Linked DNA regions of Homo sapiens: region 2 is reported to be linked to region 1. Evidence: microRNA targets listed by miRTarBase, many of them from high-throughput screens and not tested one by one. Region 1 holds a microRNA gene; the other region holds the end of a gene's coding sequence.

What was found. Region 1 holds the annotated microRNA hsa-miR-5000-3p (UCAGGACACUUCUGAACUUGGA, at 1,657-1,678, opposite strand). A microRNA usually pairs through its seed, bases 2 to 8, with sites in the 3' UTR of a target mRNA and lowers its output. Matches are read on the target gene's strand: a 7mer-m8 pairs with bases 2 to 8, a 7mer-A1 pairs with bases 2 to 7 and ends in A, and an 8mer does both.
Region 2: the mRNA of ARHGAP22 is a reported target of hsa-miR-5000-3p. The part of its 3' UTR that is shown has no 7-base or 8-base seed match.

What each region holds. Positions count from the first base shown.
Region 1 is chr2:75,087,175-75,092,550 of GRCh38, reverse strand. It overlaps MIR5000 (microRNA 5000), which reads right to left and starts at 1,739; the gene lies at 1,637-1,739. All of the region lies in intron 2 of TACR1 (tachykinin receptor 1), which reads left to right. RefSeq lists a silencer at 1-6.
Region 2 is chr10:48,441,861-48,447,236 of GRCh38, reverse strand. ARHGAP22 (Rho GTPase activating protein 22) reads left to right here. Exons shown (of 10, transcript NM_021226.4): 10 at 618-1,201. The coding sequence ends at 846. Among named protein-coding and RNA genes, the nearest start is that of ARHGAP22-IT1, 67 kb to the left of the region's middle. RefSeq lists an enhancer at 1,168-2,069 and a silencer at 2,617-2,911.

The DNA.
Region 1 (5,376 bases):
AATTGTGCTACAATGTCCCCATTTCCCATTTTCTAGCATCTCTCTGAATCATTCTTCTAAGTTACCAGGTAAAGTTTTTGTTGATGAAAATGATGATGATAATGTACAAGGAAATAAAATCTTTTTTTTTAACCCCAAAGACTGCCCAAAGAGAGTAAGTCCTATTAACTGGCAGGGACTTGGTTTTCTGAGCACCACAATGCATTAAGGGTCATGAGTTTGGAAATTAAAGCTGGTGGTGTTGCATTCTGCATAATCAAGCAGGGAGGTTTTTAAAATTGGGGGAGGGATGGGAGGTAGGAACCAGTGAGGCTTAGCACCGTGTGAGGAAAGGCAACTCAGAATGTGAATATTAAGTTGTTTGCTACAGTGTATGTGATATAAACCCTCTCTTACGTCACCCTACAAGATCATCACCCTCTGCTGCTCACTAGTGTGTGTATGTGCTTTTGAGAGAACTAAATAGCATGCTGAGTTCTGCATTCAGATTTGTTTGAAACAAAAACAAACACCTCACACTGATGTTATGCCCATTTCCTCATATAAAGTTCTCCTCACAATCTTTGGAGATAGATATCGTTGTCCTTATTTAATAGATGAAGACTGTTTGTAAACTGAGGCTTACAGAACTTACATAACCTGTCCACAGCCGTACATTAGTGAGGGGAAGAACTGCTTCTTCCCCATGTGGGCTTCCTTTTGCCCAACTTCCAGCATCAAGGAGCCCCAAGAGTGCACGGCACTGCCCATACAGCAGATAAGTCACAGAGCCAACCAAGAGAATGTGAGTGAATCCCTCTTCTTAAGTTTTGGAACCCACTTCTAGAGTTCACGTCAGGTCATTTGTTGTGCCTAGGTCTGTCAGTCATGGCTAAGAGTGATATGAAAAAGTAGAAGACACAGGACAGATCAGAAAGGAGAAAGGAACACAGGCTGTGACTCAGGGTAGAATCCCAGCCCTGTTGCAATAACAGACTCACTTAAGCAAGTTGGGTTTTATAACAGTTATGAACGTTAGTTTTTCTCATCTTTAAAATGGGTATTATAGTACCTCCCTTATAGGATTATGGAAAAGATTGGAACTGACAAAGTTGAAGGGTCTACCAGGCCCTTGTGAATGAGAAATGTCATGTTATTATTGGTCATGAACCATGCTGTTAAACTGCCTGTAATCTCCTAGAATGTGAAATCTGAGGAGGTCTTGAACATCACCCAATTCAACTCCTTATCTATAAAATGGAGTAAAGGAGATCCAGAATGGTTGAGTAATTTCCCGAGTTCACCATGAGTTATGGTAGAGTTAGGAGCGGAAATTCAGGGGAGATTTTTTTTTTTTTTTTTTTTTTTTTGCACCTACGAGCCCATAAGAAATTGAGGACTGCAGGAAGGAGTTCTGTGAAGCACTATAATGTGTGAGATAAAAAATTTACTCCATGAGCAATCAGAAGGAGGTAGAATTGATGCAAACCGAGCCAAGAATGAAGGTTATATCTTGATTAGAACTTGAAGGAAGAGTAGAATGCTAATGGACAGAGAGTGGCTGCCTTTTCAGATAAGGTGAGAAGTGCTGGAAGCTTAGCTAGGTGGCCCCGTTTCCACAGTGTGACTAAGAACAGACCAGTCTGAGAGATAACAGAAGCAGGGAGACCTGTATGGTCCAAGTTCAGAAGTGTCCTGAGTTATAAGCACAAGTTACTCAGGAACACTTCTGAACTGGGACCACACACTCTACTCTTCAGAGAGGATGACTTTGGGATCATAAGGGATACATTCTTGGTGACACTATGGGTCTGATGGGGAACGGTCACCACTCTTCCTTGAGAAATTTTTGTCCTAATTCTCAAAAGGTGTAAGAGAGCATACAGATTAAAAGAGTGGTGATTGGGGATGGGATAACAACTACTAGCTGACATTTGTTGCTCATTATGTGAGAAACTTGCACTTAGTTTCTTACCTACAGTTTCCAGGCTATAGGTAAATTTAAACATTTTTTGCTTGACAATTGGTTGAGTTTGTCTAAAGACTTGGGATCAATAGAAAGGAATGTTTGGTGCAATAAGAGGTTGTGGAGACCAAAGTTTTGTCATGCAGGTGAAGCTTTTAGCTAGCAGGCTTCAGAGAGAACAGGCTGTGAAATGTTTAAAGTCCGTGTTGATGTTAATGCCCCATACAGGTATGATGAGGCCTGTTCGACCCCACTTCCCTTCATGGCCTGAACCAGTCTTTCAGATTAAATTTTAAGAGCCCTGGCTGAGGAGGAAGTCTGTTTAGATGGTTGGGGGGCCTTAGAATTTTATTTTTGGTTTACAAAGTAAATTATATCATATGTTAGAAAGTGAAAAGTGCTATGGAAAGAAAAGAAAAAGCAGAACAGGATAGGAGGATGGACATTCAGGGGAGGGCACAGCAGGGAACTGCACACCCCAGCAAGATGGTCATGTCATTGAGAAGTGACCTTTGAGCAGACTTGAAGGAGGTGGGGAGTATATTTGTTTTAGCAAATGTATGTGGTAAGTCCTAACACTCTTCTTATTGGCAAAACAATGAAATACAGGCAATTAGTTGAATGGTGATGATGATGATTTTGATGAAGATTAAGATGGTAATGAGCTGCTGGTGCATTTATTTTAGTCTAGGTGGTGCTTTCCAGAAATTTGTTTGTTTGAGATTTGTAAAACCTTTGTAATGTACTATGGTTTGGCTGGGTTGAGAGGACATGGGGTGGTAGTGGTGACAAAGCCAAGACCTTCAAGCCCAGATTCCCCTTCACTGCTCCCAGTGTCTACATTAAGAATTTAAACTCTCTCAGCCTCACTTTCCTCACCTCTCACCTAAGGTACTGACAGCCTCTGCCACCAGCGCACCATGTGACTCAGCAATGTGTCCACATGGCCAAACATCTCATTTCTCTAAAACATGCAGAAGTAAAGTCTTCTACATATGATTTCACTTAATGAAAGGGCTCCACTTATTTTTTTAAAGTTTGAAACCATTGCCTTAGTCTCTAAGGTCTCTTTTAAGTCATCAGATACTTTCAAGCAAGAGTGATGACTCCCGAAAGGGTGCTCTTAACCCGCTCATGTTTAACGTAATCTCAATGGTTTGTCTTTCTGTTTTCAGAGTAAAACCCAGGAGGAGTCCAATGAAAAGTTAAGAGAAAGACATTAGGTCCACACATTTATCAGATCAAGTTTGAGCAGAGTCCTGGAGGAGGTGAGGGCAGGGGCTGCCAGTGGAGGTGGTGAGAAGTGCTATTCTTCTTGGTATATCTTTGAAGGGAGAGCTAGAAGATTTTACCAATGAAAGAAAGTTCTCATTTATGCAAAAGGCAAGTCATTCTGTACCTACTATATAAGGTCATGACAGCTATGATCTCCAGGAGATGAAGAATTCTCTACCAGTGGACTAATTTAGAGCTCTGTACCTGCCTTGCAGCCCTGTGTTCTAGGCCAAAGGGCAGCACATATGGTGAAGTTAATTGAACCTGTGTGATTCAGTTAGGGTGCGTTAAAACTAGAAACCACTATAATCAGATGGAAAAGTGCCTACATGCATCCCAAGAGAGCTTGATGCTCTCTGTGGGAAACTGTCAAACTCACAGGAGGGTGGGGGCAGCATGTGGAAAGGGAAGGAAGACAACCACACGCAGCTAAAGCAGATGAGCTGTGGGGAAGAGGGAGAAGATGTGAAATTAGAGAGAAGGAAATTGCAGGGAGTGAGGAGAATCAACCCAAGCCACGGGAATAAAGAAGGGAAGAATGATTCAAGATTCAGGGGCGAAGGGGATACCATCCCCCTTCCTTGTCACCGATCCGCCTAAACCCCCATCACCCCACACATGGTGATTGTGGTCTAAAGCACAGGGGTCTCCTCCACCTGCTAGAAGGAGGAGAGGACAGAGAAATGCCCCCTGCCATGCAGACAGCACCTGCAGGAAGCCTCCAGCAGTCTGCAGGAGGAACATAACAAACACATTTATACACTCATTCAGTGAATATTTATTGAGTCTCTAACCCTGGGATACAACAGTGAACAAAACAAACATTATCCCTCTAGCTACTTAAAACCAAGTAGTAAGCACATACTTTATATAATTATATAACCATGTTGACTATATATCATTAGCTGTGATAAGCACTTTGATAGAAAAGTTCAGGCCCTCATGACAGCAAATAAAAAGGCTGGAGATTTCAGGAGCTAAGCTTTGAGGAGTTAGCTGCGTGGAGAGGGAAGGAAGGAGGGTGTATTCCAGGCAAAGAGCACTGCAGGGCCAGGACATAAGGGTGGACAGCAGGACCTGATCAAGGACAAGAGCCAGGGCTAGCCAATGTGGCTGGAGCAGGGTGCAGAGGAGAGTGGGCTGAGTGCGGCCACAGAAGGAGCAGGAGCAGGTCAGGCAAAGCATCACTGGCTACATGGATGGTTTGAGTCTTTAACTCAAAAGAAATAGGTTGTAGTTTTCAGCTAACAAGATCCAGCTGCAAGGTAGACGTCAGCTAGAGAAATGAGGACCGAGACATGGGGGGACTACAGATGAGGGAAGTTCATTCCACCACAAAGGAGAGCTTTCCTTAGAAGGATTCCAAAAACAATCCCTTCATGCCTGCCACTGGAGGCTGAGTTCATCATCAGTGAGTAGTTCTTTATGTAATGCTATGTAGCACTTTGCCAAATACCACTAACAGCAAAGAGGCAATGAGACTCCTGAACCTGCTACAGCTGTGACAGATGTTTAAGTCTCAATATCAAAAACATTTCAAATTTTCCAAGGGGATAGACCAGTTATGTCTAAATGACTGGACTTCAGCAGGGGAAAAGTGATTAAGAAGGCAAGGAAGTGAACAGAAACCCAATTATTTACTGTTTCAAATGGCAAGAGGTGAGGGGAGTCACTGACAATGTGGAGATACAGCTGGGGAAATGTTAACTAGCACAACACGGCGTTTAATCACAGATTTCTGCTTAAAGTTGCTTGGGTTGGTGGGGCTTCCTTAGGCAAGGGTTTTAATTAGTTTCAAGTTTACACTTCTACAGCCTTTCTTAATAGTAAGTTCTGTCAAATGTGCATGGTGAATGATGATTGTTGTTTGCAACCATCTATTAATGGTGTCTTCCAAACACTCCAGAGAGAAAAGCACTTTTTGCAAAGGGAGGTTTGCAGAAGTTTATCACTGGTAGTCTTTGGGGAAGAACTACTGGGATATCTTCTACTGGATCTGTTACCAGGTCATCTTACTTCAACATTCTAGACCAGCACTGTCAATATAAATAACATGCAAACTACAAATGCAAGATGCAAGTGGAATTTTTAATTTTCTAGTAGCCACATTTCTTAACGTACAAATGAGTGAAACAAATTTTAAGAGTATATATTGT
Region 2 (5,376 bases), not on the chromosome of region 1:
GCATGAGCCTGCATGGAAGCGTGTGGTATAGGCTCTGGTGGCACAGAGGAGCACCATTGTGACCTGCTGGGGAGGATCACAGGAAGTAGCATCATGGAGGGGGCGCTTGAGCTGAACATGACGGGAGAGCAGGAAGGGAAGTGACTACCCCACAGGATCTTCTGTGGGTCACCACGTGTGGCTGGATCATGGGGACAGTGTGGGGAGCTGCAGGGAGCTGTGGGAGGGGAGGCCACAGCACAGGAGCAAAGGCCAGGGGACAGTCCGAGTCCCAACCCTCCCCATGCAGGGGCCTGTACTGTTCCTACCAGCTGGCAGGGATCCCATACTGCACTGGAGGGGCAAATGCGGACCCAGGGAGGCACCGAAGGCATGGATCATTGTGTTGGCATTTCGGGATCACAGGCCCAGAGGAGCTAGGGGAGCTATGGCAGGGGGCAATTTGCTCATGGGTGAAGTACTGGGGTTCTTGTGAGGAGCAGATGAGCCAGGGTTTCCTCCTGCCGCCATGGCTTGGCCTGACCCCTCAACCCACAGTGAGCACAAGCATGGTATACCCATGGGACAGTGAACCTGGCCCGCAGAGTCTCAAACAGCATCTCTCCTTGACTTTTCAGAATCGAAGAAGGGAGTGCTGACCTGAGAAAACGAATGTCCCGGTTAGAAGAAGAACTGGACCAGGAAAAGAAAAAATACATCATGCTGGAAATAAAGCTGCGGAACTCTGAACGGGCGCGGGAGGATGCGGAGAGGAGGAACCAGCTGTTGCAGAGGGAAATGGAGGAGTTTTTTTCGACCCTAGGAAGCTTGACTGTTGGGGCAAAAGGTGCCAGGGCCCCAAAGTAAAAGGAATGGCAGAGCTCACTTCTGTACCACGTCTGCTGGTCTCCAGCCTTGTATGGAGTTAGAAGCGTCTGTATCTCTGGAGCAGCCAGGCGCTCTGGAGCCAGCTGGAGAGAGAGAGATCCTGATACCTCTGTGGGGACTGTGGGGACTTTTGGGACCCCACACACTCCAGGTGGGATCAGATGCTGCTCCAACCATGCAGTTCCTGGTGAGGGTCAGAAGGGGACGGTACCAAGAGTAGCGCTTAGCCCTTACCCAGGAAATATCCTTCATGGCCACAGAAATGGAGGGCGCCCAGGATCCAGGCAGCCACCGGGAACAGTCAGCTTTCTTTATTAAATGTGCTCACAAAGCATGGTGCCTTGTTACCTGGCTCATTTTTCATGCCTCGCAATACAGGACACAATACAGGACCACTCCTGTTTCTCCAAGGGCTAGGAGCCCCCTGAGGTATGCCCCTGGGTGGAATAGCACAGGCATTGTGAAGTGGGACGTGAAGCCCCCCAAGGGGCAACAGCCTTGTGCTTTCAGCTGTCTCGTCTGCATGTTCCAGGTGGGATGCCTTTCTTTACTCCCCCCCGCCCCGTAGCCATCTGGACCTCTGCAGCTAGTTTCTGTCTTGGGAGGTCCCCTGGGCTTTCCACCATGGCCCTAGCTCTGCTCCAGGGCCAGAGCCTGAGTGGGCACCCAGCACAGATGCTGTGCTTGGGCGAGGTGTGGGCAAGTGTGGCCACTCTACAGGAGGGCTGAGCCAAGGCCATGGGAAACGTCTGTTCACCGTACTCCAGGTGCCTATGCCTCACTCTGGGCGCCTGCCCAGCTCCCTTCCAGCCCCCGCTTCCCTGCTGTTCACCCCCCTACTCTGGCTTATCCACAGACTTGAAGGCTCCATTAGGGCAAATCCCTCCAGAAAGCCTTTCCCACCCACAGGGCACCCAGGCCAGGCCCAGCTGGAGCTCCTGGACTGTGCTTCAGGAGGCAGCACAGCAGCGCCTCTGGGACCAGCAGTGTCAGACCACTGTCTTCACCTGCTCCCCTCACGGTGTCCTGATGTGTGGCTGGCCCCTTGCTGCCCCTGAGCAGTAACCTGCAGGGGTTTGTTCAGGGAGCAGTGGTCACCAGAGCGCCCAGTTTCTGACCACAGCCTCTAGAAATGTCACTCAGGCCCAACGAGCTCCATCTAGAGTCAGGTATAAATGTTGCCCACATCTGATGCTTTAAATGCCAGGGGCTCAGTGCTCCCAGGAAATGCTGGCTTCCTGCCAGGAAGGCAGGCCCGCAGGGTGAGGCAGGCAGGGCAGCTCCCACAGTGTGGCCAGCTACCCATTGTCTCCAGGCAGCTACCAGGGGCTCGTCCACCAGGAGGCGGGCACCTGCTCAGGGCCCTCAGCAGCATCAAGGTCTGGATGCCGGAGCTCAGGAGGGGCTGGGGAGAGTGGCGTCTGTCTTTGCTCGGCCACTGACACGCGAGCCAGCCGTCTGGGTGATGGGATTTTTCCCTGGTGTTGAGATGCTACCCTCCCCTCTACTCAAGGAGAGAGAAGAGAATAGGAGGTGACTTTGAGTCCTCACAGCAATGCAGTGAAGTAGAAAATTGGCCCTATTATCCATATTCAGAGGAGAAACGGAGGCTTGGAGAAATTGGGTGGGAACAGCAGTGCGTCCTGATGACCCTGTTGAGTTTTCTCGCCACAGCTATGGAATTCTGCTGATTTTTGACCTGGAGAGAAAATGCCACCAGGCTATCAAAGGAGCAGAGGAGACTGAAATGGGTTTCCCATGATGAAAGGAAGCTTGTCTGTCTGTCTCAACCATTAATCCTGGCAAAGGCTTAGGCTCCTGCTGAGTCCCCAGTAGGGATAGGAGCTCATGAATGCCTGAGCCACATCTGCCACCTGTTGGCTAAGTAGGATCTGCAAATGGCATTCTTATCTCAAAATGAATTGGCATGATTATTCAGTTCTGTTCTCCAATCTCTGTGTAACCAGCACTGGGCATCTTATCTGTAAAACATCTGACTTGACTGTCAGGCACACTGAGTGACAGAGGCTGACCTGTCGCGGGGGCTCTAGTATCCCCACCACTACCCACTTCTCTCAATTGAGTTACATTTGCTGAACCTGGTCCCAAACTGACAGATTCCCATTGTACTTGTTATTGTAATTACATCATTTAATATGAAGTAGACTCATGAATTACATGAATTATGAACATGAAAAGGTAGGGAATTGATTCATCGAAACCCTAGAATGCTTTAGACAGACTCAGTAGAGGCACGTTGCTAAAAAATATTGTCAAATTAAGCATGGATGAGTGAAACATGCAATAGCGAGAAATGGGAAGAATCTGGGATTCTGCTCTCAGAATACTTCAACAGTGTCGTAAAACTTGTGTTTGACTTTAAAGAAATACTGGAAATTGTGAATGTCTCACTAAAAAAACAAAGAGTTGTCTTATGTTAAAAGAATAACAAATGAATGCACATGTTCTTTAAAGTTAAAATACAATTTTATGGGTATGTGTGTGTGAGAAACAGAAATAGAAAGAAAAGGAAGATTCCTTGTCTTAATTGGCTTTTGAGTGATGGACCAGGAATGAATCTTATTCCTGAAGGAATTTCGGAATGGAACCCATATATCCATGTTTCCCTGGTCTGTGGGTAAAAATGGAGTCAGTAACAACATTTCCCGGACTCTCTCCTTCTCCTTTTGATGCAGAACCCCAGGCCCCTGCAGAGCCCTCCCAGTATCCTAAGTAATTCTCTCACGGGTGTCTTGAGTTCCTAGCTAAGCAGCTGTGACATTGCCACACACTGCTGCTGTGTCTCCTTACTCCTGCCTCCACCAAGAACCCCCACTTGCACCAGGATTGCCATCCTTTTCTACCAGCCACATTGCTACTACTTCTGTCTCCCAAAGCAAGCCCCGCAACACTTGAGCACAGGGGTCTCACAATGTGTTGCAGTCTGTGAAGAAGTGGGGTAGGGTAGGATGGGGTCATGAAAAGCCTAGCAGGGGCCAGATACTCTGAGGGCCTATCGCCCATGGTGAGAGGTTATTTTTATTCTAAGGGAAATAGGAAAGCATTTGAGAGCTTTACATTAACTCACATGAATTGACTTCCATTTTGATAATGGAAGGGGAAAGAGAAAGCTTTTGAAAGATGGGAACTCTTGAGCATGTCTGTACACTGCTGCGAATGACCCAAATGACAGGGAGAGAGCTGCAGGCAGGTTCATAGGAATGCACAGCGGTCTTTGAGAAGTCCTGAAAAATGCCAAACATGATTACCTTACATAGCATCCCCCAGCTTTTGTGCAGGAGACGTTTTTATTCCCATAAAGCTTCTCAAGCAGAACACAGCAGTTTCCAAGCAAAGACTCCAGAGCCCGCCTGCCCAGATGCGCATCCTGCCCCTGCCGCATGTGACAAGCTGGCTTGATGACCCCACTCCAAGACAGCTAAATCTCTATGCTATCTGGGCATTGGGTCTTAACCCAATGGTTTCATAAATCCCAAGCCCCTGCACTCAGGCCACAGCTGGTTAAAAAGCTCACCAGTTTAGTAAACCAGCAGCAGCTGGCCCAAAATGCCTGGTAGAGACGTGTTTTTCTATAATTATTTCCTCTTTCCCTTCTTTCAGTGAGCTTTTGATAAATGTCTGTCCACTGTGGTAAAAGGAGACAAGGGGCAGGGTCTGTGGTAAAAGGAGACAAGGGACTGAGGAGTAGAGCACTTTTCTGGGCCCAGGCCTGGTGGTGGCTGTGGCAGTGGCCATGGGGATGGGGAGCCTCGGGGTCAGCACGTGGGTTCATTGGTTCAGCTGCACACTGGTGGTGGGTGGGGGTGGGCTTCAGGTTCTAGAATATCTTTTCCTTGTGACACATCAAATCGAGGGAAACAACAGCACTTGGTTCACATCAAACTCTTCTGGGTATGTTTGCCTAGAGACATAGCTGCCATGCCAGGAGACATGAGAGACAGATGCTTGACTTGACGAACCTGTACACCAGGGTGCTGAGCCGAGCCTGGTACCAGTCAGGATGATGGCGGCAGCCAGCACTCACCGAGCACTTGCCACCCCCTGCCCTGCATGCACACGCCAAATCCTCCCAGCAACACTGCCAGGTGACATTAGGCTTCCCACAGGACAGATGACAAAGCACAGCCCCAGAGTTGAGGCACTTGCAGGGAGTGAGGCAGCCAGTGAGGGCAGGATGCTATGTGGGTATTTGGCACCGGAGCCCATGCTCACATCACTATAATATCACAGCGCTGCATGCAGTGTACTCATGTCACACTTTGAGGGCCATGAATGTTGCATTTTCAGAGGACAGAAATGGTGTAAAGGATACGCTCTAGTCATTAGCTTACCCAGCCCACCATTTATGGAACACCTACTTGCCAGGCATTATCTCCAGTAGGACAGGCTCTTCCATCCAGGGGATCCCAGTGTGAGGCATCAAGAGAAGATGAGAACACAGGATGCTGTCAAGTAACAGTAAGAGGCATGGCTCAGCCAGATTGACAC